Linked DNA regions of Homo sapiens. The protein of the gene in region 3 purifies or fractionates together with the protein of the main gene of each other region. This does not show direct contact. Each region holds a gene or a part of one and is shown on either strand. Other genes may lie near its edges. The genes, in order: SERPINA4, GPC4, PDPK1 and AGRN.

Evidence for each region.
Region 1: the proteins of PDPK1 (region 3) and SERPINA4 purify together in Homo sapiens (affinity purification with mass spectrometry; 3 studies listed by BioGRID and IntAct, with this or other methods). This does not show direct contact.
Region 2: the proteins of PDPK1 (region 3) and GPC4 purify together in Homo sapiens (affinity purification with mass spectrometry; 2 studies listed by BioGRID and IntAct, with this or other methods). This does not show direct contact.
Region 4: the proteins of PDPK1 (region 3) and AGRN purify together in Homo sapiens (affinity purification with mass spectrometry; 2 studies listed by BioGRID and IntAct, with this or other methods). This does not show direct contact.

What each region holds. Positions count from the first base shown.
Region 1 is NC_000014.9:94,556,604-94,564,441, reverse strand, and holds the start of SERPINA4 (kallistatin isoform 2 precursor), read right to left. Parts: upstream 3,001-7,838; 5' UTR 2,948-3,000; exon of another isoform or gene 2,727-2,947; coding exon of another isoform or gene 2,633-2,726; intron 977-2,632; coding exon of another isoform or gene 960-976; coding exon 311-959; intron 1-310. UniProt on the Homo sapiens protein: Inhibits human amidolytic and kininogenase activities of tissue kallikrein.
Region 2 is NC_000023.11:133,412,487-133,420,438, reverse strand, and holds the start of GPC4 (glypican-4 precursor), read left to right. Parts: upstream 1-4,949; 5' UTR 4,950-5,473; coding exon 5,474-5,633; intron 5,634-7,952. UniProt on the Homo sapiens protein: Cell surface proteoglycan that bears heparan sulfate. May be involved in the development of kidney tubules and of the central nervous system.
Region 3 is NC_000016.10:2,597,002-2,603,693, reverse strand, and holds the end of PDPK1 (3-phosphoinositide-dependent protein kinase 1), read right to left. Parts: intron 6,572-6,692; coding exon 6,419-6,571; intron 6,044-6,418; coding exon 5,927-6,043; 3' UTR 506-5,926; downstream 1-505. UniProt on the Homo sapiens protein: Serine/threonine kinase which acts as a master kinase, phosphorylating and activating a subgroup of the AGC family of protein kinases.
Region 4 is NC_000001.11:1,037,096-1,044,119, forward strand, and holds part of AGRN (agrin isoform 2 precursor), read left to right. Parts: intron 1-3,569; coding exon 3,570-3,785; intron 3,786-4,077; coding exon 4,078-4,302; intron 4,303-4,382; coding exon 4,383-4,607; intron 4,608-4,680; exon of another isoform or gene 4,681-4,701; intron 4,702-4,860; coding exon 4,861-5,067; intron 5,068-5,081; exon of another isoform or gene 5,082-5,653; intron 5,654-6,143; coding exon 6,144-6,362; intron 6,363-6,442; coding exon 6,443-6,637; intron 6,638-6,727; coding exon 6,728-6,928; intron 6,929-7,013; coding exon 7,014-7,024. UniProt on the Homo sapiens protein: Isoform 1, isoform 4 and isoform 5: neuron-specific (z+) isoforms that contain C-terminal insertions of 8-19 AA are potent activators of AChR clustering.

The DNA.
Region 1 (7,838 bases), on a different chromosome or scaffold from region 3:
TTGCACTGTTGGTAGAGGCTGAGCTCAGATATGAATCCAGCAATTCAACTAATGATCACTGGCTATAATGCATTTTATACATTATTTTTATGAAGAAAATATGTCTAAAGATAGGAAGGAATGGAAACCTCAATACTACAGAGTCTTCAACATACAACATTCTCACATTGCATTCCCTGAGGGTTGCTCAACCCTATCAGACACAACGTTTTTACTTACATTTTTGTAAAAATATATTTAACCAGTCAACAAATTAGTGGGTTGGAGGCGGTGGTGTGGATTTAGCATATACCAATGATCTGACTCTCACCTTTGAAGTAAATGTAATTCACCAGCACCATCAAGACGTCCTTCTTGAGCTCACTGACCAAATCCACAATCTTCCCTCGAGTTTCCTTCTTGACGTGGTCGTTGATAAGCTGGATTGTGCCCACAGTGTCGTAGAAGTTGGTGTGGAAGAGTTTAGCCTCATAGACGGCCATGGTGTCATTCAGGAATTTTGCAAGGAACTTCAGGTTGTGGCTCAGGAACAGAGCACTGCCCACGCGTGTTTCCAGCCCATGGCCGGGGAGGTTGAGAGTGTGCAGGAGGTGCTGGAAGCCCCTATGGACATCGGACTCAGACAGCTCGGTGAGGTTGAAGCCCAGGCCCTCAAGGATCTGGCTGCGGCTGTGTGAGCAGGCCCCCAGGGAAAGCATGGCGTAGGCCGCCGAGATGCTCAGCGGGGAGAAAAAGATGTTCTTCCCCGGGGTCTCCGAAGCGATCAGGTAGTAGAAGCGGAAGGCAAAGTCAGCATTGGCAGGGGCTATCTTGAGGCTGGGGGAGCCCTCACCTGTCTCCAGAATCTGCTGGTGGGAGCTGTTACTGCAACTCTCACCATCATGCTCAACGTGCAGCTGGCCATGAGAAAGGGCCAGTAGTCCAACCAGCAGGAGGAGCAGGTAGTCGATAAGATGCATCCTCTGCACTCTCAGGCCTATGGGAGGGAAGAGAATGCCCAGGAAATTCCCCCAGAAGAACACCTGGCCCTACTGAGAAGGCTGGCAGTGGGCCAGCACCCGGAGATCGTGAGTGACACCCTCAACTCCTGCAGATGGGCTTGTGAAAGGCAATGTAACACCCACCACCTTCCACATGTATGGTGACAGCAACACTATTGGATGGCAATGTTTTAGACTTACAAGGCACACTCCTTGTGTCCATCATGTCATTGTGTTTCCCACCTGTGTGAGCTCTGCACAGCACTAGACTCCATTCTCACCCAACAGAGCAGGAAATGAAGACTCCCAAAGTGACTCACCCAAGTCACCTACCTAGCACATATCCCAGCCAGAACCCACATCCCCAGACTCAGGTGCTGCTTCTCCCACACTTGTCTTTCAGATGAGTTGATTTCATTAGTGCAGTGATTTTGCATGGAGGATGGCTATCCTCAGAGTTTATTTTAGGGTCTGTTCCACAAACATCTGTGGAGTGCTTTATATGGTTTACAAACCACTTTCAGCCATTTAGTTTGACCCTCCCACCCCTGTAGAGGTCAGTAGAACTGGTCTTTGTATTGTTACCCCGTACAGACAAGGACATGGATGTTTAATAAGTGACCTGCCCAAAGTTGTGGGGATAGAATTGGTACCCGTTTCATAATGAACATCTGTCCAAGAAAGGATACTCCAGTTTCTCCCCCAAATCTGCTCCTGCCCCATCAAATGGTCCCACCAGTATCCGGTTGTCAGGCCAAAAAGCTTCTAGGCTTCTATCCACCCAAAATCCATTTAATCCACTTCCATGACCTGCAGGGTTGGGTTTTTTTTGTTTGTTTGGTTGTTTGTTTGTTTGTTTGAGACAGGGTCTCACTCTGTCACCCAAGCTGGAGTGCAGTGGTGTAATCATGGCTCACTGCAGCCTTGACTTCCTGAGCTCAGGTGATCCTCCCACTTCACCCTTCCAAGTAGCTGGAACTACAGGCATGCACCCTTCCAAGTAGCTGGAACTACAGGCATGCACAGCCACACCCAGCTAATTTTTTATAGAGTTGGGGTCTCACCATGCTGCCCAAGCTGGTCTCCAACTCCTAGACTCTCCTGTAGGTTCTTCAGCCTCTCGCCCCCTCTTTTGCTATGATCCTCAACCAGGGCTCAGAAAACTTTTTCTGCAAAGCGCCAGATAGTAATATCTGTGGTTTTGCAGACCACACAGTCTCTGCTGCCACTACCCAACTCTGCTGTGGCAGCTGGAAACAGCCACAGACCGGACATGCATGAAGAGGCGTGGCTGTGTTTCAGTGAAACTTCACTTACGGACACTGAAATGTGAATTTCATATTATTTTCCTGTGTCACAAAATGTTGTTCTTCTATTGATTTTTCATAGCTTTATATATTTATCTTTTATACTTATCACTTATATTTTATATTTATATTTTACATCTTGCATTCTTAGCTCATGGGCGGTGGGCCGGATTTGACCTACAAGCTGTGGTTTGTTGACCCCTGACCTAGACCCTTGCAGAAAGCTTCCTAGTCTTTCTGCTCTCTGTTCTCCACTCAGCAGTTGGAGGGATCATTTAGAAACATACATAGGACCGCATCACTCACAGACACACCTCCCCTCCGGCATGAGCTCCCCAAGATCACCTGGATTGGCAGCCAGAAGACCTTGGCCCTCAGTCAGTGCCGCCCTGTACCAGCTGTGTGTCCCTGGGGGAGGCTTTTCTGGGTCTCCGGGCATAGTCACCCACCAGTGCCCATGGACCCTAAGTCGGGGCCTTTCTAGCCTGAGTATTTCTCACCTCTAGCAAGAGTGACAAAGTGTCCCAGCTTGCCTGGGACTTTCCTGGTTTTAGCACTGAAAATATATCCCAGAAGAATTATCAGTCTTGGGCAAAGTGGAACAGTTGGTCACCCTCCCTCTAGAGTCTCTCGTCTCCATTGTCTCAGGGGGTTACTCACGGCACAGTCTGTCCTGGAGTGGACCCCCTGGGTGGCTGTCTCAGCTCTGTCTTATCAAGCCCAGGAGGACTGGTCAAACCAGGCCTTCTCAGTACCACCCACTCTCTCCCGACCAGGTAATTATTAACAAACAGGCTACGGGTGCAGCATTGCCTCAACAAGGAAAACTCACCAGAAGTTGGTTCACCCCCTCCCAAGAAGACACCCCACTTCCCACCTGGGGAACCCCAAGAGGGTTCACTTCTTCATGTTTGTGCAGTGCATGGAGGTTCGCCTGGCCCTTGCTGCTCCCCGAGGGCCCGGGGAACCACTTGGAAAATCTGGTCTCCAACCAGCCCCTCACTAGCTGTGTGAAGTTGAGCTCATTTACTCCCTCTCTGAGCTTCAGTCGCCCACCTCCCTCCTACAACATGAGGGGCTGGATCAGACAGGGGGCAGCAAGCTCCAGCGCCGCCTTCCTAGATCAGGTAAGGAAGACTCCATGGTGCCACGGTGGGGAATGGTGGGGATGTGTGGAAGTGAGAGAGCCAGCTCTCTACAGGCCAGGCAAGACCCACCTGTGGGCAGGGCCTCACAGCAGGGCCTCCAGTTTGCAATCCTGGACTCTGTGATTTCTGAGGATAGAGTCCACTGAGATCTCATAGGTCAGACCATAAGGAGAGTACATCCCAGGGCAAGGGTGGCATGGGGTGGGACCAGGAACCTCCTTGGGCCAGGTATTCAATTTGCATTTTTCTTCTTTAACCATGGAATTGAACTTGTTCTCTCCCCAGTAATCAGTGAACCCCTGCACCCTTGCACCCTTGCACCCTCCTGGGGCAGCCATTTCTCAAGCTATGTGGGGAAGGACTGCAGGGAGCAATGTGGCCCTGGGTGCCCTGACTGAGATGACCTTGACCATTCAGGCATCCTCTAGCAGACTTTCTGGATGTGTTTCCAAGTCGTTGGGCCTTAAGGTAAGTGAAATATACACCACTGAGCAGCACAGTGGGCTGGGAGCCCTGAGCGATGTAGACATGGGGATGGCAGAGCAGGCACAAGCACAGCCCTGGAGCCAGCTGGCCTGAGGTCCAAAATGGGTCAACACCAGGACAAGAGAGGAAGCTAGCAGGTCAGGCAAAGTGAGAGCTACTGTCTCAGTGGATTCTCGCTTTCCCTCACTCATCTCTCTCTTTCCCTTGCCTATACACTCTAGGTATACTAAGCTTGGCCCATTTTACACATGAGAAAATGTAAGCCCGGAGACATTGTTAGCTCAGATTCCAGAGTCAGGGTCTGCTCCGTGGCCACTGAACATGAAGCCCATATTCCTTCCCAGCATCTGCTGCTTCTCCACTTGGACAGACTTTTCCTGCCACCGGAATAGCAGCTGCTGCTTTGCTTACTGCTGTACCACGCGCTAGAGCAGAATGTGGTGCAGGGGACATGCTCCATGGATGTTGACTGAGTAAGTCAATGAGTGAAAGATGGCCATGGATTTTTGCTCTGATGAATGTGAAAATACATTATTCCCCTTACAATGGTCTACAGTCTGGGGTTTTGCTTTTTTAGTCTTGCTTCTTCAGTGAGTTTGGGGCTGATGCCACAGATTCCAGGGGTTAGCGTATGCTTGGCTGCAGCCCAGGGGATGGACAGCTTGTCCCTGCCATGAGCACACAGTCACTGCCCTTTAGTTTCTGGCGCCTGCCCCTGGTATGTTCTGGACAGAGGCTGGGCTTTGGCGTCAGACAAGCTCCCTCACTGCTGAGATTTGTGACTTTGGGCAAGTCACTCCACCTCTCTGAACCTCAGTTTTTCACGTGTCAAATGAGAAGCAATAATCACTAATCAGAAAACTGATATTAAGGGCAGGGGGGCAGCACTCTTAAATGTTCTGAGCCCTGTATCAGTCTTAATGGGTGCTTCCTTCTTCCCTTCCCATCCCAGCAGTGGTGGACAGCCAGACTGTCTGGGTTGAATCTAGACTCCACCACTACTTAAGTTACTTAACTCTGCCTCAGTGTCTTCATCTGTAAACTGTGGGTAATAATTGCCCCTAAATCTCAGGGTTGTCAACAAGATCAGTAAACTGACATCTGTAAAGTCCTAGAATAGCATCTGGCCATAGTGAGTGCAGTGGAAGCGTGAGTTAGTCTGTCGTATTATTTCAGATGGGTTGTACATTACTCATTTATCCCCAAAGGTGTACACATGGCTGAAACCATGTTGTTAAACTTGTTTTGAGTTGTGGTCCTGATTATCTCAAGAAAGCTTTGAACTCTCCCTGAAATATGCACAGATGTATGTTTTACAATTTAGGGAGATTCTTGAATCCCATGAAGTCCATGCAGTCCCCGTGGGCTACAGCAGTTATTTTTTCCTGCAAAGAGCAGGCCCATATAAAGGAAAGGTGGAAAGAACTCTCAGGCATGTAGTGGGAGCTACTGACTTGGACCCTGCAGGAGAAGGAGGGAATGACGGCAATTGGTGTGGCTGCAGGCTGGGCTCAGTTGCTAACTCCAGCCTCAGTCCTGCCTGCTTCTTGTCTTAAGGTCTCTGGGAGGGCTTCAGGATTGTTGAACCCTTGCCTGTTACAATTTGAAGGCCAAGTGTTTCTTGTTAATCATCTGTAAGGTCCCAGAGGACAATGAATTGTGCCACAGTCATATCTGGGCACATTAGAACAGGCCTGGCCTATAGAAGATGCTTAACAGAAGTCAGTCATTGAATGAATGAATGAATGAATGAATGAATGAATGAAGAGATGCCAAAGGCCCTGCTCAGAGGTGCTGCTCAGATGTTCCAGTGGCAAGCTCCTAAAATCTGCAACACTCTCGGCAAGTACTGATTTAAGGAAGCAGGGATAAGTTGCCTGACCAGGAAGGCCAGGGTGGATGTGGGGAAGCAGAGGGCTTGACTGCCTCTCTGCCCCTAGGAAATACCACTGGGCCAGATGGGGCAGCTGCTGTGACACCACTGATGTCCCCGGCAGGGAGCCGCTTTTTCCAGCATCCCAGAAACTGCCTGAACTGTGCTGTAGGCATGAATCCCACTCCCTGACACCCTCCTCTGCTCCACTGCATCCTAAATTGCAACCCAGCCCTTTCTCAATGGCTGTCTTGGTCTCCCATTCCAGCACAGGCTCCACTTATGCTGCCCTCCTGCTAACTGCTCCCAATCCCCTTCCCATTCCCTGGATTCCAAATGGAGCCAGGAAATTAATCTGCCCTTAAAAAGGCTGTCCTTGTTTTGAATTTGATTGGCAATGCAATAATGGTCATCATGAAAAATATGGGAAAGTAAAAAAAACCTGGAGAAGAAAATAAAATCATTTGCAAACCTGGTGTTCAGCTTATGACTAGATATAATTGGTTTCCTTCCAGTCTTGTAAGAAATGGGTATGTGCTCATACAGAACAGCAACAACAAAGCTCTTCCAGTCTTGGTTTGGATGGAGGTAGGAAGACTATAGATGCTACAGTCCAAAGAGAGCTCCATGCAAAAATTCCAGAGTAGGTGGTCAAGAACAGGTCTCCTGATTCTTAAATGCTTTACTCATGTGAAAGAGGACTGAAAGGTGTTGAGAGGTGGAGACTGAGAAGGAATTACAAAGAGGAAGGAGAGAAGTGCTTCCCCCATGTTATCTTAAGAGTGCAGAGCTTCAACAAAACACTCATGCAACACAATATGTATCCCTGGAGTTAGAGGGGCTCAGGGCTTGATGCTTGCCTGGAAATGCTAAAAGGTGTAGGTGGGCTGTTTAGCCTCTCTAGGAACTCTACGTCTAATTATCTGTCCCTCTCTTAAACTCATCATTTTCTATCTGGCTTTTAGATACATAGTTACACAGGATACACATACATCCTACTTATGTATAGCTGGGAAACAAGCCACCCCAAATTTAGCGGCATAAAACAATGGCAGTTGTTTGTCATTATTATTGCTATCTCTACAGTTCTGGGGGTTGACTGGGCTCAGCTGGGTGGTTTTTGCTCAGGGTCTCTTATGAGGTTGCAGTTGGACAGGAACTGAGACTAGAGTCATCTTCAAAGTGGATATGCTTTCAGACTACCACATATGATGTCCCTGCTGGACTATGGGTTTTTAGGAAGCAAGCACAGTGTTTTATTCCTTTTTCTTCCTGAATTTGTGTCCTTCCCTCTAACTTTCACAGCTTAGCACATTGCTTAGCACAGAACAAGTCCTATGTTAGGGTCAGTTGAATAAAAAACAATAATTAGACTTCATTCAGGATCATCCTGGTGGATGGGAGGCAAGACTAGATTGCAGCTCTGACTTGGATAGACAGAGCAGCATGCGGAGGCTTGCATGGTGAATTTTAGTGTCAGAATGACTTCAAGAACAAACCAGGAATCCTGAGAGGACACACAGACCCTCTGAAGGAAGTGGACTGCTTCTGCAGGACCCAGGAGATCCCCCAAATACTGTGAGTACCCAAACTGCGGAAATGGGAAAGGGAGACCTTCTGCTATGAAACACACACCCCCACTGGGGAAAATGAAGGTGTAGTTTGTGGGAGAAGTTTCTGACCTTACCTGGAGCTGAGTCGATTTAGAGAGCCAAGCGAAATACAGGGGTAGAGGAAGCAGGGGGAAAGGCCCTGGGAGCTTGCTGGATCTCAAGCAGGCCATTCCTGCATGGCACCACAGGAGCCCTTTGGGAGGGTGGCCAGAGGTGTGGGGCAAAATGCCACAGGGAGAAGGAAGTCTCCAGCTGAAATTTGTAACAATTTGAACAGGGCAAGAAGCTTGCTGGCCAGAACTTGGGGAAGGGTGCGAATCCAGTGTGCCGACTCCACAGGTAGGGGAAGAACCAAAGCCCTATTCTTTCGCAGTTGGGAGGTGAGTAACCTGGGGCAAGTTCCCAAGACCTGCTCGCCCACTGCCTGGAAA
Region 2 (7,952 bases), on a different chromosome or scaffold from region 3:
AGGCAATAGGCATGCAAATAAAAATAAAGCCTAAGGCCAGGCGTGGTGGCTCAAGCCTGTAATCCCAGCACTTTGGGAAGCCTAGATGGGCAGATTGCTTGAGTCCAAGAGTTTGAGACCAGCCTGGGCAACATGGCAAAACCCTGTCTCTACAAAAATATAAAAATTAGTGCAGTGGTGTGTACCTGTGATCCCAGCCACTTGGGAGGCTGAGGTGGGACCATTGCTTGAGCCTGGTAGACGGAGGTTGCAGTAAGCCGAGATTGCACCACTGCACTTCAGCCTGGGCAACAGAGCAAGGCTCTGTCTCAAAAATAAATAAATAAATAAATAAATAAATAAATAAAGCAAGGCTAGAAGACATCTTGGAGGCTGGTAGTGGAGGAACTCTCAAAGAAAATGTGGCCTCTGCTAAGGAGCAAGTGTTGTAGTCATTTTATGCAGACAGTGCTTTGGAGGCCTAAAAGGAGGAGGAGGGGCTAGCTCTGCTTGGAGGAATCCAGGAAAGCTTTCCAGAAGATGTGACTTCTCAGCTGAGTCTTGAAGGATGAGTATGAAAGAATTGTCCAGGAAATGGAGGGGAATGAAAGGATAGCATAAGAAGGGGCAGGGTACAGGTAGAGAAATCCATGCAGGACGGAGAATGATGACACATTCTTGTGGGGCCAGAGCACAGGATACAGGATAGGGAAGGGCCAGTAAGAAAGTTGGAAATGTAGCCTGAGCAAAATGGTGACACCCTGTCTCTACAAAATACAAAAAAAAAAAAAAAATTAGCTGGGCATGGTGGCATGTGTCTGTAGTCCCAGCTACTCGGGAGGCTGAGCTGGGAGGATCGCTTGAGCCCAGGAAGGTGGAAGCTATACTCTAGCCTAGGCGACAGAGCCTGCATCAAAAAAAAAAAAAAAGAAAAAAGAAAAAGAAAAAAAGGTGGGGGGGCAGGCACAGTGGTTCGCACCTATAATCCTAACACTTTGGGAAGCCGAGGTGGGAGGATCACTTGAGCCTGGGAGTTCAAGACCAGCCTGGGCAACATGACAAAACGTCTCTACAAAAATCAGCCAGAAGGACATTGTCCAGAAGATGTTGTCAAAGCCTCACTCTGATGGCTGTGTGGGGAATGGGCTGGATACAGGGAAAGACTAGAGGGCTGCAGGCCAACATCTTACCCTAACTAAGGGAGGGAGCTCCCTTCCTTCCTTCTTTTCTTCCCTCCCTTCCCTTCCCCTCCCCTTCCCTCCCCTCCCCTCCCCTCTCCTCTCCTCTCTTCCCTTCTCTCTTTCCTGAAACACGGTCTCATGCTGTCACCCAGGCTGTGGTGCAGTGGCGTGATCACAGTTTACTTCAGCCTCTACCTCCCAGGCTCAAGCAATCCTCCTGCCTCAGCCTCCCAAGTAGCTGGGACCACAGGTGTGCACCACCATGCCTGGATACTTTTTATTTTGTTGTAGAGACAGTCTCACTATGTTGCCTAGGCTGGTCTTGAACTCCTAGGCTCAAGCAATCCCCTTGCCTCGGCCTCCTAACAGATATGAGCCACTGTGTCCAGGCTTGGTTCTTCCCAGCCCCATATTTGGAAATCAGGGTAGCTCCCCAGCAGGCCATGAGAAGTGTCCTCAAAGCTGAGAGAGTAGACCTGGCTCAACCAGTTCTCTTGGATTGGAGGACAGAAGCATGGGAATGCATTCTTTGTTCTCTCTGCCCACCAGCAAATGTACCCTCCCCCTCCCAGTGTCATATCAGGGGAAACTCCTGACCTGGGAAAAACAAGTATACCATTAGTGCATTCTATCTAAGCAAGCCTTTGCACACCGTTTATAAAACTGTAAACTCCTTTTGGCTTATACATCTTCCCTTCCTCTAGGACTGAACATTGTCAGGCACATAGGAGGTGTTCAATGAACATTTATCAATCTAAAACAAAGATACTTCCACAGGACCTTGGCAGTTGTACATTCACTGCTGACAGTAAAAGAGACCCAGAGCACTGTGTTCTCTGACCAACAACAACAACCACAACAAAAATAGCATGGGATTTGGTCAGAGGCCTTAGATTTCAGTCTTGGTTTAGCCACCCAAGAGCTCTGTGGCTGTGGAGAAGCCACAGAACCTTGCTGAGACTTGGTTTGCTTATCAATTAAAAACAAACAAACAAAAAACAAAATATTCTAAGATATGAGGGTGCACCTGGAAGCACTGTGCAAACTTGTAAAGTGCTATATGAACAAAATGTGGTATATCCGTAAATGGAACATTATTCAGTCATAAAAAGGAATGAAGTACTGATACATGTTACCATATGGATGGACCTTGAAAACATGATGCTAAGTGGAAGAAGTCAGACACAAAAGCCCTGTATTGTATGATTCCATTTCTACAAAATGTCTGGAACAGGCAAATCCATAGAGACAAAGCAAATTAGTGGTTTGTAGGGACTGGAAGGAGAAGAGAATGAACTTTGAGTGCTTAATGGGTATGTGGTCTCCTTTTGGAGTGATGAAAATGTTCTGTAACTAGTGGTGATGATTGTACATTATGATTGTACTAAATGCCACTGAAGTGTGCATTTCAAAATGGTTAAAATGATACCAAATTGCGTATGTGTGTGCTTTTTACCACAATTCTAAAAAGCAAAAAAAAAAAAAAGTTATATGACGGTTAATCAGCCTGAGAAGTCATCGATTTTTGCAGTCAACATGCAGTCTCTATTTTTTGGCGTTGAGAGAACTTACAAGGAGTAGGTGCATCTCCACTAAGAAGCCTCTTCTGAAGACAGCAGGGATGGGAGTGGGAGAGGGAAGAAGGAGTTCTGGCCCATCTGAAAAGAAAGCTTCCCTTCTGGATGGTATTTGTTTCGTAGATTGCCAGTTGTTCACCCTGTTTGTATTTAAATGAAAGGAGGCTTTGAAGTGGGAGCCGCCTCTGAGCACGGCTTGGGGTTCCTGCCTCCCTTGGTAAAGTTCAGACTTGTCCAGATCTGTTTGTAGCCAGAGGTTACTGTTTCTGGTGGAAAAGGCTCAAGTTTGGGTTAATAATACATTATGAGGAAGAGCAGGAGTAAACCTGGGGAGGGCGGGGGCGGCGGGGGGGAGCGGCGGCAACGAATGAGTTCCTCCCAGCCTTGGTGTGAGAAGTAGCTTTCTGATTTGGCCTTCATGGTTCAGGAGTATCATTTTCTCTCTTACGGTCACTGGCTTCCATTTTATAATAATGCTCGTTGCATCTCAGAGCATATTCTCCTTGGTGAAGAACATCTTTAAGTAAATGTATCAATCAATGAAAATTAAAAGTGCTCAGCTAAGCCCTAGCAATGCCTTCAGGACTTGATGGTTACCAGTTTAAGGAAAGTCTTGAAAATGGCAGGAAATTCAATTGTAGTTGAGTTTGCACATTAAAAAAATTGCTCTCCTAGTTTCAGAGTTAAATATTCAGCCAGCCCACAGAAATTGGAAGTCACAGTTATAGACGGGTCACAGTCTGTTCATGTTGATAGTCTGTTAACAAAATGTAGAAGAGTCTGCAAGCAGGTATTCAAAATAACAGCTCCTCATAGCCAGCCATGTCAACGTGGTTTACAAACAACAGTGGAGAAAGTCTCAACAAACCCTCTGAGGGTGATAACTGTAATGATGGTTCGTATCTTTGCCCTATGTAATTTTATGGGAATTGAGAGTCTAGCCAAATAATAAGTTCCAGCCCTTTTTATCTGCCCAGTTCCCAGCACACTCCCGAGGTGTCTGAGGCACTTCTCAACCCAACCTCTTAAAGCAGATTGTAACAATAACAACGGTAATGACAAGTTCCCGAGCTGCACAGTTCCCTTCATTTAAGGAGCGCTGGGAGCTTCAAAAAAACACTCATTAATGGAATCTGACAAAGCTTGCAAGATGGGAAGTCTCTCCCATTTCCAGTTTTCTGGTGGAAAAGTGGGGACTGAGTCCCAGAGGGGTGTCAGTCTCTCTCAAGGGGCTTGAGGGGGTAGGGGGTTTGGGAGTCCTGGGCTACCATTATTCCATGAAATTCGAGAGTCAAGAGTCCCGGGTTCTGGACGCCCCCTTCCCCGGCGTGCTATTTACCAAGTCGCTTCCCATTTCTGGGCCCCAGTTCCCTTAATAGAAGGAAGGGTTGGGCCAAATGGTCTCCAAGATCTCTGCGGTCAACCCTGTCTTTGCCCCCTCACCTCGCGGTTGGGGGTTTCTCCCGCTTCAGAGTTCGGTTAGACTTGTAGTAGAACCGGGTCGGGGGTGGGAGTGGCGTCGAGGGGTTGGAGTGTTGCGGATGCGGGAAGGAGGATGCCTGATGGGGTCCTGGACAAACTGGTGTTTCACGAGTACCGTCCTATGGGAAGCAGGTCTGGGGAGACCAGGTGAGGCTCTAGGACGAGCTCGGAGCCCCAAATCCCCCTGCTGCCTGCAGCGAAACAATGCGAGTAATGTGCCTTCCCCGCCCAGCCCGGGAGCTGCGCGGATAGGAGCGTCCGCGGGTGCGGGATGGCAGCGGGGAGGCGGATATCGCGGCGGGAGGGCTCCGCGCGGCTTTTGCCCATAGGCGGCGGGTCAGGTGGCCGCGCGCAAGAAGGCCTGGGGCTCAGACATGGGCTTCGGGACAAGTCCCAGGCCGTCCCGTTCCCCAGAACCTGGGCCCTTCAGCCCGGAGTAGTTGGCCTTCCCTTTGTGGTTGGGGGGCGGTGGGCTGGCTCCCCGCCTCCGAGGAGGAGGGGAGGAAGGAGGAGCCGGGTGGGGCGTGTCACGCGAAGGAGCGCCGGGCGCCCGGTGCGGCCCCCTAGGAAGTGGATTTGGCCGCTCCGGATCCAACCCGGCTTCCAGGTTTTCTCCCGGCCCGGCCCAGCGTGCTCCCGCCTGTCTCCGGCCCCCCCACGACGCCCGCCCCCTCCCCCCGAGTGCCGCCCGCTTGGCCAAGTTTGCGGAGCGTCGCCGCGCACGCCGGCCAGTCAATCAGCGGCAGAGCTGAGAAGGGCACAGCCGCGCGGCGGAGGGCAGAGTCAGCCGAGCCGAGTCCAGCCGGACGAGCGGACCAGCGCAGGGCAGCCCAAGCAGCGCGCAGCGAACGCCCGCCGCCGCCCACACCCTCTGCGGTCCCCGCGGCGCCTGCCACCCTTCCCTCCTTCCCCGCGTCCCCGCCTCGCCGGCCAGTCAGCTTGCCGGGTTCGCTGCCCCGCGAAACCCCGAGGTCACCAGCCCGCGCCTCTGCTTCCCTGGGCCGCGCGCCGCCTCCACGCCCTCCTTCTCCCCTGGCCCGGCGCCTGGCACCGGGGACCGTTGCCTGACGCGAGGCCCAGCTCTACTTTTCGCCCCGCGTCTCCTCCGCCTGCTCGCCTCTTCCACCAACTCCAACTCCTTCTCCCTCCAGCTCCACTCGCTAGTCCCCGACTCCGCCAGCCCTCGGCCCGCTGCCGTAGCGCCGCTTCCCGTCCGGTCCCAAAGGTGGGAACGCGTCCGCCCCGGCCCGCACCATGGCACGGTTCGGCTTGCCCGCGCTTCTCTGCACCCTGGCAGTGCTCAGCGCCGCGCTGCTGGCTGCCGAGCTCAAGTCGAAAAGTTGCTCGGAAGTGCGACGTCTTTACGTGTCCAAAGGCTTCAACAAGAACGATGCCCCCCTCCACGAGATCAACGGTAGGTGGGCACACCCGGGAGGTGGGCGCAGAGACCGACACTTCGGGAAGGGAGGCTGCAACTCCCTTCCCCCGCCCCGCCGCCCCCTGCGCCGGACGCAGGTACACTAGAGGGAGAAATGGGCAGTCGAGAGGGCAGGAGCGAGCGAGCGAGAGAGCCAGGCAGCCCGGGCGCAGGACGTTCCCCGCGGGCGCAGCGCTCCCCCCTTCCCAGCACTGCGAGCGGAGGGGCGCCGCCGGGTTGCCCAGTGCGACTGTCGCGCTCCGCTCCCCGCCTCCGCTCCTCCTCTCCCCCCTGCATTATTCGCCGTCCCGGGAAGCCCCTGAGGACTGTGGCCCTCAAAGTGCGTGTCACCGGCTACTTCTCCTTTTCCGGGTTGAACTCCTTATAGGACGCCCCGCTTTGTTGTATGGGTGAGGAGAGGCCGGGTGGGGGTGGGGGTCGCCAGTGGGGTGTGGTGGAGGGAAACGTCCCGGAGCTTGCTAGATTCTGGGGGTCGCAAAACGTGGAACTTGAATTGATGTTTCATTGATGTTCTTTTAAAACTCTCTCCCCGCCTCTCTTGCACCGCTGACAAGGATTAGGAGTTTTAGTAGCCGCAACCGCTTCAGAAGTCGCCTTTAAAAAGCAAACGACTACCCCCACTCTCCACCCCTCCAAACCCTGACTTTTGGGAACTCTCCTACTTTCCGGAAGGTATCAGACCAGAGGAGTATTTTTCCCCTCTTTCTTTTTTCTTACCTCATTTTAAGGGTTAATTGCACTTTCAATTACAGACCTTTGAAAGGACTGATTACAGGAAACCTGAATCTCAGTTTGGAGATGGTTATGCAAATAGAGACGGCTTAGCCTGTGAGAAAGTTCACCGGATTTTGGCGCCGGTGGGGTGGGATGGGGGGTGTATGGGGGTATTTGTGAAAGCCCCTCTCGGAGCGCTGGGGAGGCAGCGTTCGGCGGGTGCCCTGCGTCCCTCCCAGCGAAGCTGGCGGCGGTGTCCGGCCGGGTCCCCTCCGGGTCGCACTGTCTTCTTAGCAGCGGCCAACTGTTGCGCGCAGCCCCGCCGGCCGCGCAGGTAGCCCGTTCGCCCTGGGGGCTCAGAAAGCACCACGAATCTAGCTGGCTGGTGGCCAGCGTAATCTAACGGAGGAGTGAGAGATTCGAGCCCGGGGGGGGGGCTGAGCCTCCACTCCGAACCTTTCATGGAAGTGAGTGGAGCGCGCCTTTGCCTTGCCGTGCTGGTCTCCGGGTGGGGCGGGCAGGGGGCCGGCAGCCAGCAAAGGAAATACTGTAATTTCAACCAGGCGCTTCCAAAGGCTTAGGAAGATTTGGGGGTCATTTTTTGGAAGGGCTATTAATAACCTTGGAGATTAAGTGCAGTCATCAATTACATATTAATTACAAAGGTAATTGAGGGAAGTTGCTGGGCACTTTTGGAGTGTAACTGGCGTCTGTCTAGAAATAGAAGCGAAGAAATTGTTGGAGCAGCCCAGGCGCCCACTGCACCTTGGCAGTTACCAAATAACATGCTCACTACTGATTAGACACTGTTTGCCCTTCAGCTGCCTGTCTTTTGGGGAGCTCAAGTATGTCCTCAAAGCGGCACGATTTTATTGGTTGTAGAGCCCTGAAAAGCCCTCTTTCTTTCCCTTCCTCCTGCCCCGCCAGAAAAAAAATGAAGTGAACCACCAGCCGCTGAAGCTTGGGGACTCTGCAGGTCAAACCTGGGGTCTTTGTGCCCTGCACAGTTTAGGCCTGGGCACAGCGGAGATGATTGGCGTGAAGGTTACAGTTGTCATTCCCACATTTTGAAGGGGTAGATGCAGCTCTGCACTTAATGGGAATGTGACAAGGTTTCATCTTCTGCTCATGCAAACAATATGTGCCTTTGATATTGACTGCAGGCATTCAGCGAGTGGGGTTGTGAAACTGCCCTCCCCAGTTTCCCCAACTTTGCTCTGTGCAGTCTTTCGCTGTGGCAGGGCATCTTCCCCAGCCAGCATCTCAGGAAAAAGGAAGCTTGAAGGGTGCTCAGAGACTCTGTGCTAGGTGTTCCCTTTGATTGTCATCATCCCCAGAAATCACCTGAGGGATATTTTGCGTATATGTCTATCTGGACATTCCCCCATGCCAAAGATAGGGGAGTTATTAGTGACCAGCAGCAGGAAATGGAAGCTAATGTGCTCACACCCAAAACATTTTATTCTTTTTGTCTTGTCCTTCATCTCCCTCCCTGGGCTGCTGCTTTTATTTCCCCTTTTGAATGACCTACTGGACTGCATTCTCCTGAGGAACAAAGGAAGTGCCTTTTTAGCTGGAATC
Region 3 (6,692 bases):
AAGAGGTACAGGAAGGATTTCGGGTCCTGACACAGCGGCGTCTGCCCAGTGGTGAGGAAGTAGGTGCCGCCGCTGTAGAGCCGGACCCACTTGGACCTGCTGCTGGGGCGCTGGGCCAGGACGCTGAGCCCCGCGCTTTAAGGGAGGCACAAGAAGCCACCCCAACCCCGCCCCGAGCCTGCCACGGGCCAGCGGCAGGAGCTCGCAGTGATTCCCCGCCATGATCCCAGCAAGCCCCACCACACCTCCGCTTCACCGGAAGAGTCCGGCTTTTAATATCGCCCTTTGCGTTCTGTCCCGCCCACTGGTCAGCCCTTGTAGAACACCCGCCGGTCACATGGCAGGCGGAAGTTCCATCCGGGAAAAGCAGCCGGCTGGTCCCACTTCCGGAGGGAGTGAAACCGAGCTTGGGGCGCCAACGCTAGCGGGCAATGGCAGACACCCGCCCCCAACCGCGCCCCCACTCCGTGGCGGGGTCAAAGGAAGAGCCACGCCAGCAAACCTCTACACTCTACATGCTTTTTATTACAAGACTACTGACCATACGAGGAAAATTCATCATCTGGTAACTACACCTAAAGCACAAGTATTTGGAAAAAAAAAAAGGATAAACAGATTCATTAAATTATATGATTAAATCACTGACCCAATAGAAAATTTATATAATAAAGCCAGAAAAAAAGTTGTAAAATATAGTTTACAATAATTATTCACATTCAAGGCTGTACATCAATACATACAACAACGTGGCCCCGAACATGAATTCAATTCAAATAATTCATATATTAGAATTTAAATAACACAGACTGAACTAGAGGCCAACAATAGCCAGCAAATAACCTTATATAAGAATAAAAATACAAAAGTGTATATCCTAGTATCATTGCATTTGTTTTCATAAGTTCTTTTAATTTTTGCTTTGTCTGTACATCACAGTTACAGCTACAGACCAGGTAGAGAATATTACGCATGTTCTGCTTGCCACCCACCTGAAAGACGTACTAGTCATTTATCCTATTTTATGTTGTGAAGGAACAGCTACAGCAGCTCTAAATACTGTAACAATTTAATTTTGCCAACATCCAACTTACTTACAGTCGTAATAGAGGCTTTTACCAGCACAATGACCCCTATTCGTAGTCATTCTGCCAGGTGGTTAGGCTATGTGGGTTACACAGCTTAAAAAAGGTCTGCCTTTTGTAAAAAGTTCTCTGTACATAGTTTGGTGTTTCTTCATATGGAAGAAATGAGTTACGGGGAAAATTCAGGTACACACGTAGGCTCGTTCAGTTGCTCACCACAGCCATCTCAACAGATGAAAGTGCTCTTTGTTGGAAACAGCTTCCTCCTCACACCAGTTCTCCACAGGCAGCCTCATCTACAACCCTGCAATTTTGGGCCAGAAGTGGTGGCCCCTCAGAGGCTCTGAAGTGCCTCCAGCCCCGATTCAGGCACTTGCCACGTGTGCTGCGTAAGAAGGGACCCCCACCCAGTGAGTCAACATAGGCTCATGTCAAGTTTGAAAATAACTGGGGAAAAGTGTATGACAACATCTTCCAGAACAAAGTACCTTCACCGTATTCTCACAGCAGCTGCGATCTCTGAAGTCTCAGCAGTGACCACCCCGGGTCTGTCAACCAGCCAGGCAAGGGGGGGCCCTCAGGCTTCAGAGGGCAAGAAACCAAATTCCGTGCAATTTGGCCATAATCTCTGGTAGAGTGAAGCAGCACTGAACACGGTGCCTAGAAAAACCTCCTGCACGTTCCCCTGCACAATCAATGGACCCCAACTACAGTGGAGAAATGAAGAATCCAACCAAATTTGGGTGGTCTGGACTTGCTGCCAGCCAGGCAATCTGCAACACTGTGGGCAGGGAGTTGGGGGGGGCGGCCTGAAATCTACACCAGCTGGGACAACCACGCCCTACAATGAAAAAGCCAGCCTGGCTGCTGGGCTCTTGTGAACCACTAAGACCTGAAGGTGGGGCCCCACGGGTGGAAGGGGGAGACAAATGCACTCTTGTAAAACCCAATCAGCTACGTGGTTTTTTTCAAAGAGGCTTTGCTCTGCTACTGATTCCAAATGTCCTAATATACCTTCTGAGTCTATAAACTTAATTACAAATCACTCACTAAGCATGTGGCAAGGTCAGTTCAACACTTGTTATCTCTGCTGACTGTGCAGATGCAAATTCAGTACCATTGTGGACACGAAGTACAAGATTCTGCCAAGCGCTTGAAAGCCACGGCAGCAGGGAGGGCAGAGAGCTGACATGCAGGCAGAGCCAGGTTCTTGCAACCAAAACAAGGAAATTGGCTCTTGGAAAAAATCGGCCACAGATGGATTGCAGTAGTGACATCCTCTTAGCATTTAAATAAAGAGCGGTCTTATTCAGACATTCTTTGGAACACATGGCTTATCAGAAACCGATTTGTTCAGAATCTGTAAGACACAACTAAGGTGGTTCTGCTACTGGAAGTGAGCGTCTACACATCAGGTCGAGAGAGAGACAGAAATATCTTCAAAATGAACAAACTCTTTCACCTCAAAATACCACTTCCAGGCATCTAAGGGGGAAAAAAGTAAGAAATCAGAAGATTTTAAAGATATTCATCACAGCATTATTTAAATAGTGGAAAAATCAGAAACCGTCTTAAGTATTTTACAGTAGGGAAATGGTCAGATAAATTATAGTAAATGGACAATGACTAAATAGTACAATTGTTAAAAACATGTTTCTGAGAAACTCATGACATGGGAAAATGCTTAAAATATCAAGGGAGAAGACGATGCAAACGGTGTGTGTCGGATGTTCCTATTTTAGTTTAAAAAGTGAACAAATGGCAGGGCAGGATATACGGCAAAATGCTCACAGTGGTCTTCTCTGGCCGGTGAGCCTACAGCTGATCTTGTCAGAGACAAACGTTAGTTTTACTGAGTCACCCAGAGCCCTGTGCTGGTGCCTGAGGGTTTGTTCCATGGGACAGTCTCCACAATTCCTCTGGGGAAGGGCCACAAATCCCACAGTGTGTCCCAAGAGGGCTGGAGTAGGCGGAGTCCCCAGCAGCTGTGGCATGACCAGCCATCTCTCTCAAAACAATTGTTAACAAGCCTTCTGCAAGTTAAGGTTCCACATGGTAGCCGTGGTACAGAGGCATTTCTCTAGGGTGGAGAGGCTTGTGCTCTACACCAGGACTGCCCACCGCCCTGGCTGGGGCCACACAAAGAGGGGAGAAAGGAATCCCTCAGAAGCCAGCCCCCAACTGTGTCCCAGAGAAAGGCGGGGCACCTGGGACACCTAGGCCGGCAGCGACCACAGCCTCCCTCCGCTTTGTGCCGAGAAGCCGCACAGTGTGGTCCCGACATTCCACCTGTCCTTGCCCATGTGTGGGGAGGCACATGGCCCCAAGTCTATTAAACAGCAGGTGAAATCTTCCTCATCTTGGATAAACCCACAACTGTAATTCCACGTAAGTGTGTCTATGTGCACACACAGTACCCCACGTTCTACCGTAGAATGTAAGGCGCCTGCGTGCCAGGTGATGGCTCTAAGGATGTGGTAGAGAAAACCGGAGTAGACATGAGCAAGCACAGGGTAAGGAAAGAAAACACACGGGCCTTTCAAAAGGGAAGAGCAAGGGGCTGGGTGAGGAGAAAGGTGACCCACAGAAGGGCTTGGCTGTCAGCTCAGGCAATGGCATCATTTTGGCTGGCGGCTGCCAGCTCTGGCTCTGAGCCCCTAGTTCTGTGGCTTTGGAGGTTAAGATGGAGCTTGTCAGTGACGCCCAGGAGGTGGTGGTTCTATCCAGAGGAAGAACGCACGGAAGAGTCTCCCCAAGCAGCCCAGCCGAGTGCTCCAATTAAAGCCACGTCCCTGCTCCACTTGTTTCCCTATAACCAGACGCCCTGAGAGATCTGAGAGAGCCACTCTCCTACATGGAGACACAGGACGTTCTGAGATGGGTAAAATAGCTGATGAGGAGGAGGAAGCCTGAACAGAAATTCCTGAAAGGGCTAAGAGAGACTCCCCAACACAGCCAAGCCTTTCCAAAAGCCAGGAGGAGGAGAGAGGACTCCGACTCCGGCCACAGGCCCAGGGCAACGTGCTGGGCCCCGGAGCGTCCTGCTCCCTGGGGCCCCAGGGTAGGTGCGGCCCAGCTCACCCCAGCTCACGGTCACAGGCTCACATGCAGCTCTCACACAGCAGCAGCCAAGGCCCAGGCAGGAACCACAGGCAGGGCCTGGGGAACATCTCTGCCCCCTCCCAGGCCCCGTCTGTACTCGCCTAGCTAAAAAGAGCCACTCTCGTCATTAGCAGTGTAAAAACGACACCTTCCCTCTCAGTTTGGATCTGGCCTGGCACACAGGGTCACTGCTGAGTCACCTGTGACTTGGGGGTAGGGACCAGGGAGGGTGGACACAGTTGAGTCAGAGGCAGGTCTGTGGGCAGCAATGTCTGCCTCTCCCCCAAAGGGAGTGAGGGCTGCCCTCCAGGGACAACCTGGGCAGGGAGAGAAGGGCCCAGACCTGCCAGGCCACCAGGAGCACTCTCTACCTGGGGAGTAGCTAGGCAAAGGACAAATGCATCTGGCCTGTCTGTGCTGCAGAGCGGGGCAAGGCCACCAAAGCATCAAAGGGAAATGGCCCCAAAACCGGCTCTCTCTAGAGGAAAGCCGACCAGCAAGCTGGGGTTGAAGTGTGCTGTTCTCGCCTCCTGTGCAACAGCAACTGGCAAAGCCCACTCTATGGGCCCAGATGAGCCGGCAGCATGAGAAGGCTGTGAGATTTCTGATGCACAGATGTAGAAGCTCTGAGGGGCTCTGAGAAACTTGAACCAAAACACAAAAGGGGCGTGTGTGACGGTGGTGTCTGCACTCCCTGGCGTGGTCTGCAGGAGACAGAAGCACCCTGGGTCTGCTGATGCCAGGGTTCTCTCAGACCCTACTTCAGCAACTGGAGAGGCGTGGACATTTAAACCTTTTAGGAGGCCCTCAGGCCTCTCTGCTCCACACGGAAGTCAGCAGCCCTCTCTGCTCTGGCTGGCTTCTCCAAGGCACCTCCTGGCCCCACCTAGGGCTCGGGGCAGGACTCTCTCGTGCAGTGAGCCAGCGGGGTACTAACTGGGCTCACTTCTGACAGTACCGCTCCCAGCATGCGCTCGGCTTCCAGCCCCAGAGACCAACACTGCTAAGTAGGATAAGGGATCCGGAGCCCTCGATGGCACCCTCCACTCGGCAGCCTGCTCCCGCACCACTCCAACCCCTCCCGCTCCTCACCACGCAAACCTGCCTGCCAACACAGCAGGGGCCACAGAAAGCTGCCACCAGAGCCACCACAGGGATATGTAATGGGCCCAGCCAGGCCTAAGGGCCCATCACAGGGAGACGCAAGAAAGGGAGCAGGTGACAGAAGCACGGCGGCTCCCTCCACAAAGCTGCGGCCCCCGCAGGGCTCCCTCCCTGGTGAAGAGTTCCAGGACCACAGCGGGAGGGGCATAAAGAGCCAAACACACCCGGTCCCCTCGGCCACAGCAGGACCAGCACACAGTTGGGGCAGGGCGGGCGCATGGTTCGGACTGATGCTAGGAAAAACTGGTGACACCAGGTCTGTCCACTAGTCTGGGCGGGACTGGGTTGACGTGCATGGAGCTGGGTCCCCACGGCAACGAGGGCACACGGAGGCCTCCACGGAGCACAGAGAGCAAGCAAAGCGACCCTGAATTCCTTTGTGTTTGTTACTGGTTTTGTTCTTTGTGTGGTTGGGTGTTTTTTTTCTTCTTTTCTTTTAAATAAAAATGCTGCAAGGTTTCCGCCTCTGCGTTCCCCTTGTGATGGCTGGCAGGTGGTCTGGAAGCGTCCCGGATGGCGGCCAAGCCGCGCTGGGGCAGGTGTCCTGGCAGCGAAGGGCAGCCCGGCCGCAGGCCACGTCACTGCACAGCGGCGTCCGGGTGGCTCTGGTATCGCTGCCTCCAAACCTCCTGGATCTTCCTGCACCACTTGTGTGCGTTCCCGCTGGGGTCCATCAGATAATACGTCCTGTTAGGCTGCGAAGACAGAAGCCGTTTAGTGTTCTCCAGGGAGTCCCACCAAAACCCCCACCCCAACCTGGTGAGCTGCCTGCGACCAGCCATTCCGAGTCCTGAAAGCACGTGGGTGTGACGGTTATTCACACAAGCAGTAAGCAACTACACAGGCTGATGACCACCACCCCCAGTCACCACCAAACTGAAAAACAAGCACAGGGTGTCCCCTGCCCCCTCAGGACTGAGCCACTAGTGTGGGCGTCTGGGATGTCGGAAAGGGCGAGGCAGCTGCCCCGATCCCCGCTGCTCCCTCTGGCCAAGGCCTGTGGCTGCTTCCCACGTGGTGCAAAGCCCTCCCATTACCCTGCACACAGAAATCCCTGGGAACAGACTCACCGTGTGGACAAAGAAAGTTTTAAAATTCTTGGCCTCTGGTCGAAGTTCTTGTGACCAAGGAATTTCACCTTTCAGAACTTTGTTGACAGGATCCACATAATATAAATGTGGTCCTTCTGTGAGCAACAGCTGTCGTCGTCTTGCAAATAAACCCTGACGCCAAAACACAAAACAACAGGCCTCAGAGGCCAGTGCTGACGGCATCTCCTGGAGCCTAGAGGGCTGGGCGGCCCCTCGGAGCTGCTCAGGACACAGGGCCACCACCACCACCTGT
Region 4 (7,024 bases), on a different chromosome or scaffold from region 3:
ACCCTCCCAGTGGGCTGGGTCCTGGGGAGGAGACAGGTCTATGCAGGTCTATGCTGGTGGCTGGGGCCGGGCAGGGCCAGGGCAAGAACTGCGTTTCCACCACCTGTGAGCCAGAGGCCTGGAGCCAACTGGATTTAAAGAGGTGCTCAGGTGGGAGGTCCCCTCTCTTAGCATCCTCAGCCTCGTTTCCTGACACCCAGAAGGCTGGGGAGTGTCTCCTTTTCTTTACACACTGCCCCCTTCACCTGGCCACAGCCCACCCTGCCACAGAGTCACGGAGGGCTCCACACCAAGGCCATCGTGACCCACATGCCACCTAACTGTGGTCATAGTTACGGGCCAGAGCTCACAGCAGGGCTGGGGCATCCTCTCCATCCCCCAGCCTACCCAGGACCAGGAAGGGAGTTAAATATACCCGCTCCTATAAAAAGCACTGCCGCCTCCAGCGTTGCACACAGTGGGAGGACCCGTCACGCTGCGGGAGAGTGGGTGGGGAGGCCGAGTGGCCGGGGAGGGGCTCCTGCAGGAGGTGGAGCTAAGACAGGCGTGGCAGGACCCCCAAAAATGACCCATCGGGAACACAGGGCTCTCAGGGTCCTAGGTGTGTCACCTGCATCTATGAGGGGCCATGTGGGCAGGTGACCGGAGCACAGATGTGTCTGAGCCCAGTGCTGGCATTTCTAGCAGTGTGGCCTTGTCAGGTGGCCTACCTTCCTCCTGCCAGCTGGCAGGGGAGACATCTCGGGGCGTGGCTGCTGCAATGCGCTGTGCCTGGCGGGTACGTGCGTGTGTGCCATCACCACGTGCACCTGTCTTCAGGTGATCTCGTGTGGAGCCTCTATGATCCCCTAGGCCTGTGGAGACTCAGCACAGTGGTGGGAGCGGCCCCTCACCTAAGCCCGCAGTGTGAGCGGAGAATGGGGGGGTGGGGCTTCCCGGAGGCCGTGATTCCTGAGCTCACTCTTGAGGGGCAGATGTGTTTCCAGCCTGGATGGGGATAGGAGGGAGGGACCAGCACTGTGACCTTTAAACCCTGGGCTGGCCGGCAGTGTCACACCATCAAATGCTGTGAGGGAGATCCACCCCCACTCCACAGCTGGGGCCACATTCCAAGAGGAGCGGACTCTCTGAGGCCCTGGAGGCAGAGGGGAAGGGGCCAGGACCTGGCCCTGCACACCAGATGGGGATGGGGAGCCAGTGCTCAGCCTGGCTTCAAGGTCCCGCCAGGTACCCAAGGTCTCTCCACTGCCCTGCCACATTGGTCCAGCAGCTGGTCACTCAGAGCCTGTCCCTAAGGTACCTCTAGGCTCCCATCCCAGAGCTTGCTCTCCATGCCCCTGCAAGCAGTCCAGCCCCGCTCACCCTGGTGAGCTGCCATCATCACCTTCTTCCCCAAGGCTCTGTCTTGGGACGTAGCAGGACCTCGGGCTGGACTATGGAGGGAGCTGCGGGTCCTGGTGGATGAGGAGCATGCCCGCCATCCAGGAACAGTGCCCTTGGCCATGGTGTCAGGGCCTTGGGAGAGGTCTGGCTGAGCCAAGGTGACCAAAAGGGGAGAAAGGCTCAGGAGCCCTGGTGCAGGGAGGTGACTGGGTCCTTGGCCATGGGGTTGGGACCTGGGGGGAACCATTGGTCCACAGGTCCAGCCGAAGCCCAGGAGAACAGCTGGCTGGGCATCAGCAGGTGCCCGTTGGATTTGGACTGGGAGTCCCAGGGCCTTGGACAAGGCAGGGCCAAAGGGAGAGGGAGATGCTGAGGGGAGAGAGAAGGGGAACCAGAAGGGAAGTGAAAGGGCCAGGGGTGCATGTGGTTTGAGTTTGATTTGAGCCAGGACGGGGGAAGGCCAGTGGTGATGACAGCCCTCATGACTATACTTACAGTGGCAGCAGACGGGCCACATAGCGCTGTGTGCTGGGCACCCTCTAAGCTTTGCAGATACTGGCCCATTTAACCCCACAATCCTGGGAGGTAGGTCCTATTGCTCCTATTCACCGAAGGGGATACTGAGGCCCAGGCAGGTGATAACCTGCCCACATTCTCACAGTGGGTAATGCAGAGCTGAGCAGCCTGGCTGTAAGACCTGAGGTGGGAGAGTAGCAGAAGAGGGGTGGGGGCACAGCCAAGGTTTGGGGAGGAAGACAGGGATCTGGTGGGGGGAGCATGGGTAGGTTGCAGGGATGGCAGGCGGATGGCCCTCACTCAGCCTTCTGGGGTGGGGGCAGGGACACCCAGACAGACAGCGCCAGAGCCTGGGGTGGGCTGTTGCTATAGCAACAGCTGGCTCCAGCTCCCAGTGCACCCACCCTCCTTGGAGATGGGGGGGGTTCCTCCTGCCCCATTTCACGAGCCTGCTGGGAAGTGATGGGTGGTAGCCACCCCTCTGACATGACTTATTAATGATAATTGGACCCAATTAAACATTTATTAAATCCAGACAGCTGCAGCCGCTAACGGACCCTTCCCTGATCCTGGGTGGGCCATGCTGGGGGTGGGGGTGCTCAGGATGGGCTGCCGCAGGGGCTCTGGGTTTTAACGTGCCTGAGGCAGCTTTGTTGGCCACGTTGAGGTCTGGTGATGGGACGTGTGTCAGGCGCTGTGGTCTGCAGCTGTAAGAACTAAAATGAGCAACAGTTCCTGCACCTCTCCAAGAAGGAAGTTCGCTTTGACAGAGAGTGAGGGCGATGGAGGAGGCAAGAGTGAGGTGGGGGGCCGGGGGATGCCCAGGGAGGAGGGGGCGTGTGGGTGCCCCAGGGATCCCAGGGAGCGATGGGAGGCTGCAGAAGGGCACAGGCCTGCCGCGGGTGGGGGGCTGGCCAGGGAGAATAGGAGATAGTAGAGGCGGAGGCCAGGAATTTGCACTTCTCCAGGGAAGCTGGGGAAGAGTTGGGGAGAGGGAGGCAAGAAGATTCCCCACCCATCTTAGGCGCAGGGAGCGGTCAGGGAGGCGCCAGAGGTGGGCCAGAGCTGTGACCTGGCCTCACACCCCGTCCCGGTGGGGCTCTCAGGCCCCTGAGGGCCAGACGCGGGACCTGGGTGCGACCCGGGCGGGAGGCGGCAGGGCTCAGCTGTGCTGGACGCTGCAGCAGCGCGGGAAGGGGCTCCCCCGGCTCCATGGGGTGAATCGGTGAGGGGCTCCGGTGCCGATGTGGAAGGAGCTCCTGAGCAGAACTGGGGCCTGGACTGCTTGTGCCCGAGTTGGTTTCGAGGCGTCTCTGCTTTTCGCTGGAGGCCCACGAGGTGGGTGGGAAGTGGGTGCTCGCCCGTCGCAGAAACAGAGTCGGGTGCCGCCTGCGGCAGACGCCCCTCTCCGCGCCTGCAGGTGCGGGGTGGGGGAGAAAGGTCATCCCTGGAGAGGCCCGGGGCTGGCGGGAATCCTCGGCGGGCGGGGTCTGCGAGGGGCAGGGCCGGTCCTGTGAGCGCACGCACGCGTGTCCGTGTCCGTGGTGGACCCCCGATGCGGCGCGGGGGCGGGTGAATGCGCGGGCTGCGAGCACGGCAAGGTCTCTCAGGCTTGTGGACGTGGGTACGGGCGTCTCGGCACCCTGAGCTTTCTCCCCTACCCGCCCCAGCGTGCCGGGGAATGCTGTGCGGCTTCGGCGCCGTGTGCGAGCCCAACGCGGAGGGGCCGGGCCGGGCGTCCTGCGTCTGCAAGAAGAGCCCGTGCCCCAGCGTGGTGGCGCCTGTGTGTGGGTCGGACGCCTCCACCTACAGCAACGAATGCGAGCTGCAGCGGGCGCAGTGCAGCCAGCAGCGCCGCATCCGCCTGCTCAGCCGCGGGCCGTGCGGTGAGCGGGGCGGGGCCGGTGCCTGGGGCGGGGAGGGGCGGGGCCTATGAGATGGAGCGAGGCTGGGAGGGGCTTCGGGGCCAGTGGGGCGGGGGCAGGGGCGGGGCCCGGCGGGGAGGAGCGGGGCTGGGAGGGGCCTGGGGGGCGGAGCGGGGCGGGAGCGGGGGCGGGGCCTGCGGGGCCCGGCGGGGAGGAGCGGGGCTGGGAGGGGCCTGGGGGGCGGAGCGGGGCGGGAGCGGGGCGGGAGCGGGGGCGGGGGCGGCCCGTCTGACCGGCAAAGCCCCGCCCGCAGGCTCGCGGGACCCCTGCTCCAACGTGACCTGCAGCTTCGGCAGCACCTGTGCGCGCTCGGCCGACGGGCTGACGGCCTCGTGCCTGTGCCCCGCGACCTGCCGTGGCGCCCCCGAGGGGACCGTCTGCGGCAGCGACGGCGCCGACTACCCCGGCGAGTGCCAGCTCCTGCGCCGCGCCTGCGCCCGCCAGGAGAATGTCTTCAAGAAGTTCGACGGCCCTTGTGGTGAGCGCGGCGGCGGGCGCACGGCTCGAGCTCTGTGGGCGCGCGGCGACAGCGTCCTGACTCCTGCCCTCGACCCCCAGACCCCTGTCAGGGCGCCCTCCCTGACCCGAGCCGCAGCTGCCGTGTGAACCCGCGCACGCGGCGCCCTGAGATGCTCCTACGGCCCGAGAGCTGCCCTGCCCGGCAGGCGCCAGTGTGTGGGGACGACGGAGTCACCTACGAAAACGACTGTGTCATGGGCCGATCGGGGGCCGCCCGGGGTCTCCTCCTGCAGAAAGTGCGCTCCGGCCAGTGCCAGGGTCGAGGTGAGCGGCTCCCCCGGGGGAGGGCTCCGGCCAGTGCCAGGGTCGAGGTGGGCGGCTCCCCCGGGGGAGGGCTCCGGCCAGTGCCAGGGTCGAGGTGGGCGGCTCCCCCGGGGGAGGGCTGCGGCCAGTGCCAGGGTCGAGGTGGGCGGCTCCCCTCTGGGAGGGCCGCCTGCTCCCCTGCTCCCTGCACATCCCAGGGCAGGGATGGAGGGTGCTCCAGCCTCTCCGTGACTCCCTCACCCCTGCGTCCTAGACCAGTGCCCGGAGCCCTGCCGGTTCAATGCCGTGTGCCTGTCCCGCCGTGGCCGTCCCCGCTGCTCCTGCGACCGCGTCACCTGTGACGGGGCCTACAGGCCCGTGTGTGCCCAGGACGGGCGCACGTATGACAGTGATTGCTGGCGGCAGCAGGCTGAGTGCCGGCAGCAGCGTGCCATCCCCAGCAAGCACCAGGGCCCGTGTGGTGAGCGCCCCGGGGTGGAGGCCAGGCGGGGTGGGCTGCTCCTGCGTCAGTCCCTGCCTGGACATCACATGCCATCTTCATCCATCATGTTCCTCTTGGGGTCCTGGGAGTGGGCCGGTCCCTCTGGGAAGGCTCTGGGGAGGGTGGAGCCTGTGTGCGGAGGGTACCTGGATACCTGGGGGCTGGTGAGGCAGAGGCGGGGCCTTGTCCAGGCTCCCTGGTCCCTGACCTCAGCCACGCCCTCCCTGGGAGTCCTCTGGCCTGTCCGCATGTCTCCACGCTGTAAGCACAGGCTGTTGGGGTGGGCAGGCTGGACACAACACCAGGGTCCTCACTCTTGGGACATGGGCAGCCGTCGGCCGTTTTGGAGGCAGTGTCAGGACTTGAAGGGCCAGGGGGAGGCAGTGGCCGTCGTGTCCCGTCGTGTTCGTCTTGGTCAGTTCGCCCATCTTCTGGTCTTTCTCTCTGCGTCTGTCTCTTCTCTTTGGTCTCTTCTTCCCTGTCGGCTCCGCCTCTTGTGTCTTCCAGCCTGACCTGCTGGCAGGATGAGGTGCCGTGCCTGCCCTCCAGGAGCCCGCAGCCCGAGGTCTGCCCCTGGTGCGGCAGGGGGGGTGGCTTGCTGCTGCCTGGCCTTGTGGTCCTCAGAGCAAGTGGACAGACACCTCCTCCCCCGTGCAGCCCTGGGTGTGACTCTGGGGGTGCAGGCTCCTCCCACCCACAGAGAGCCCCCCCACATGCATGGGTGTCCTGGGGATGCTGGTGGTCAGGGGTCAGTGGCCTGGGCAGGCTGGGGAAGCCTGGCCCTCCCATAGCCTGCTGTGGACAATCAGGAAGCCCCAAGCTTGGGGGCAGCCTCGCCCGCAGCCACCGGGGACTCCTGGGTGTGTGTTCCGCTCGCCTCTGCCGCGTGTCTGTCCCTTTCTCTGCCGTGTCTGCTGTGCATCTGGCCCTTCTCCTGTGTTCTCTCTTCCTCCACCATCCCCTCCCTGGAAGAGGGACTGCTGCGTGGGGCTGGGGGCTTTGCCTGCAGCGGAGGGGGGGCTTGTGGGACCACTGAGCCCCTGTGTCCTTCCCAGACCAGGCCCCGTCCCCATGCCTCGGGGTGCAGTGTGCATTTGGGGCGACGTGTGCTGTGAAGAACGGGCAGGCAGCGTGTGAATGCCTGCAGGCGTGCTCGAGCCTCTACGATCCTGTGTGCGGCAGCGACGGCGTCACATACGGCAGCGCGTGCGAGCTGGAGGCCACGGCCTGTACCCTCGGGCGGGAGATCCAGGTGGCGCGCAAAGGACCCTGTGGTCAGTGGCGGGTGAGGGGTCTGGTGGGGGTCGGGGAGAGAGAGGTTCCTGGTCGCCTGGTGATGGAAGCTCCTCCCCAGACCGCTGCGGGCAGTGCCGCTTTGGAGCCCTGTGCGAGGCCGAGACCGGGCGCTGCGTGTGCCCCTCTGAATGCGTGGCTTTGGCCCAGCCCGTGTGTGGCTCCGACGGGCACACGTACCCCAGCGAGTGCATGCTGCACGTGCACGCCTGCACACACCAGATCAGCCTGCACGTGGCCTCAGCTGGACCCTGTGGTGAGTGAGGCCCTGGGGCCGGGCGGGCCAGGGTCCTGTGCCTCCCTCAGCCTGGGCCTGCCGACCCCTGCCTGGCTCTGTCTCCTGCAGAGACCTGTGGAGATGCCGTGTGTGCTTTTGGGGCTGTGTGCTCCGCAGGGCAGTGTGTGTGTCCCCGGTGTGAGCACCCCCCGCCCGGCCCCGTGTGTGGCAGCGACGGTGTCACCTACGGCAGTGCCTGCGAGCTACGGGAAGCCGCCTGCCTCCAGCAGACACAGATCGAGGAGGCCCGGGCAGGGCCGTGCGAGCAGGGTAGGCCGGGGGACGCTGGCGAAAACTGCTGGGCTCTGGCTTTGGACAAGAAGCCCCTGGGTGACTCTGCTCCCCTTCCCCGCAGCCGAGTGCGGT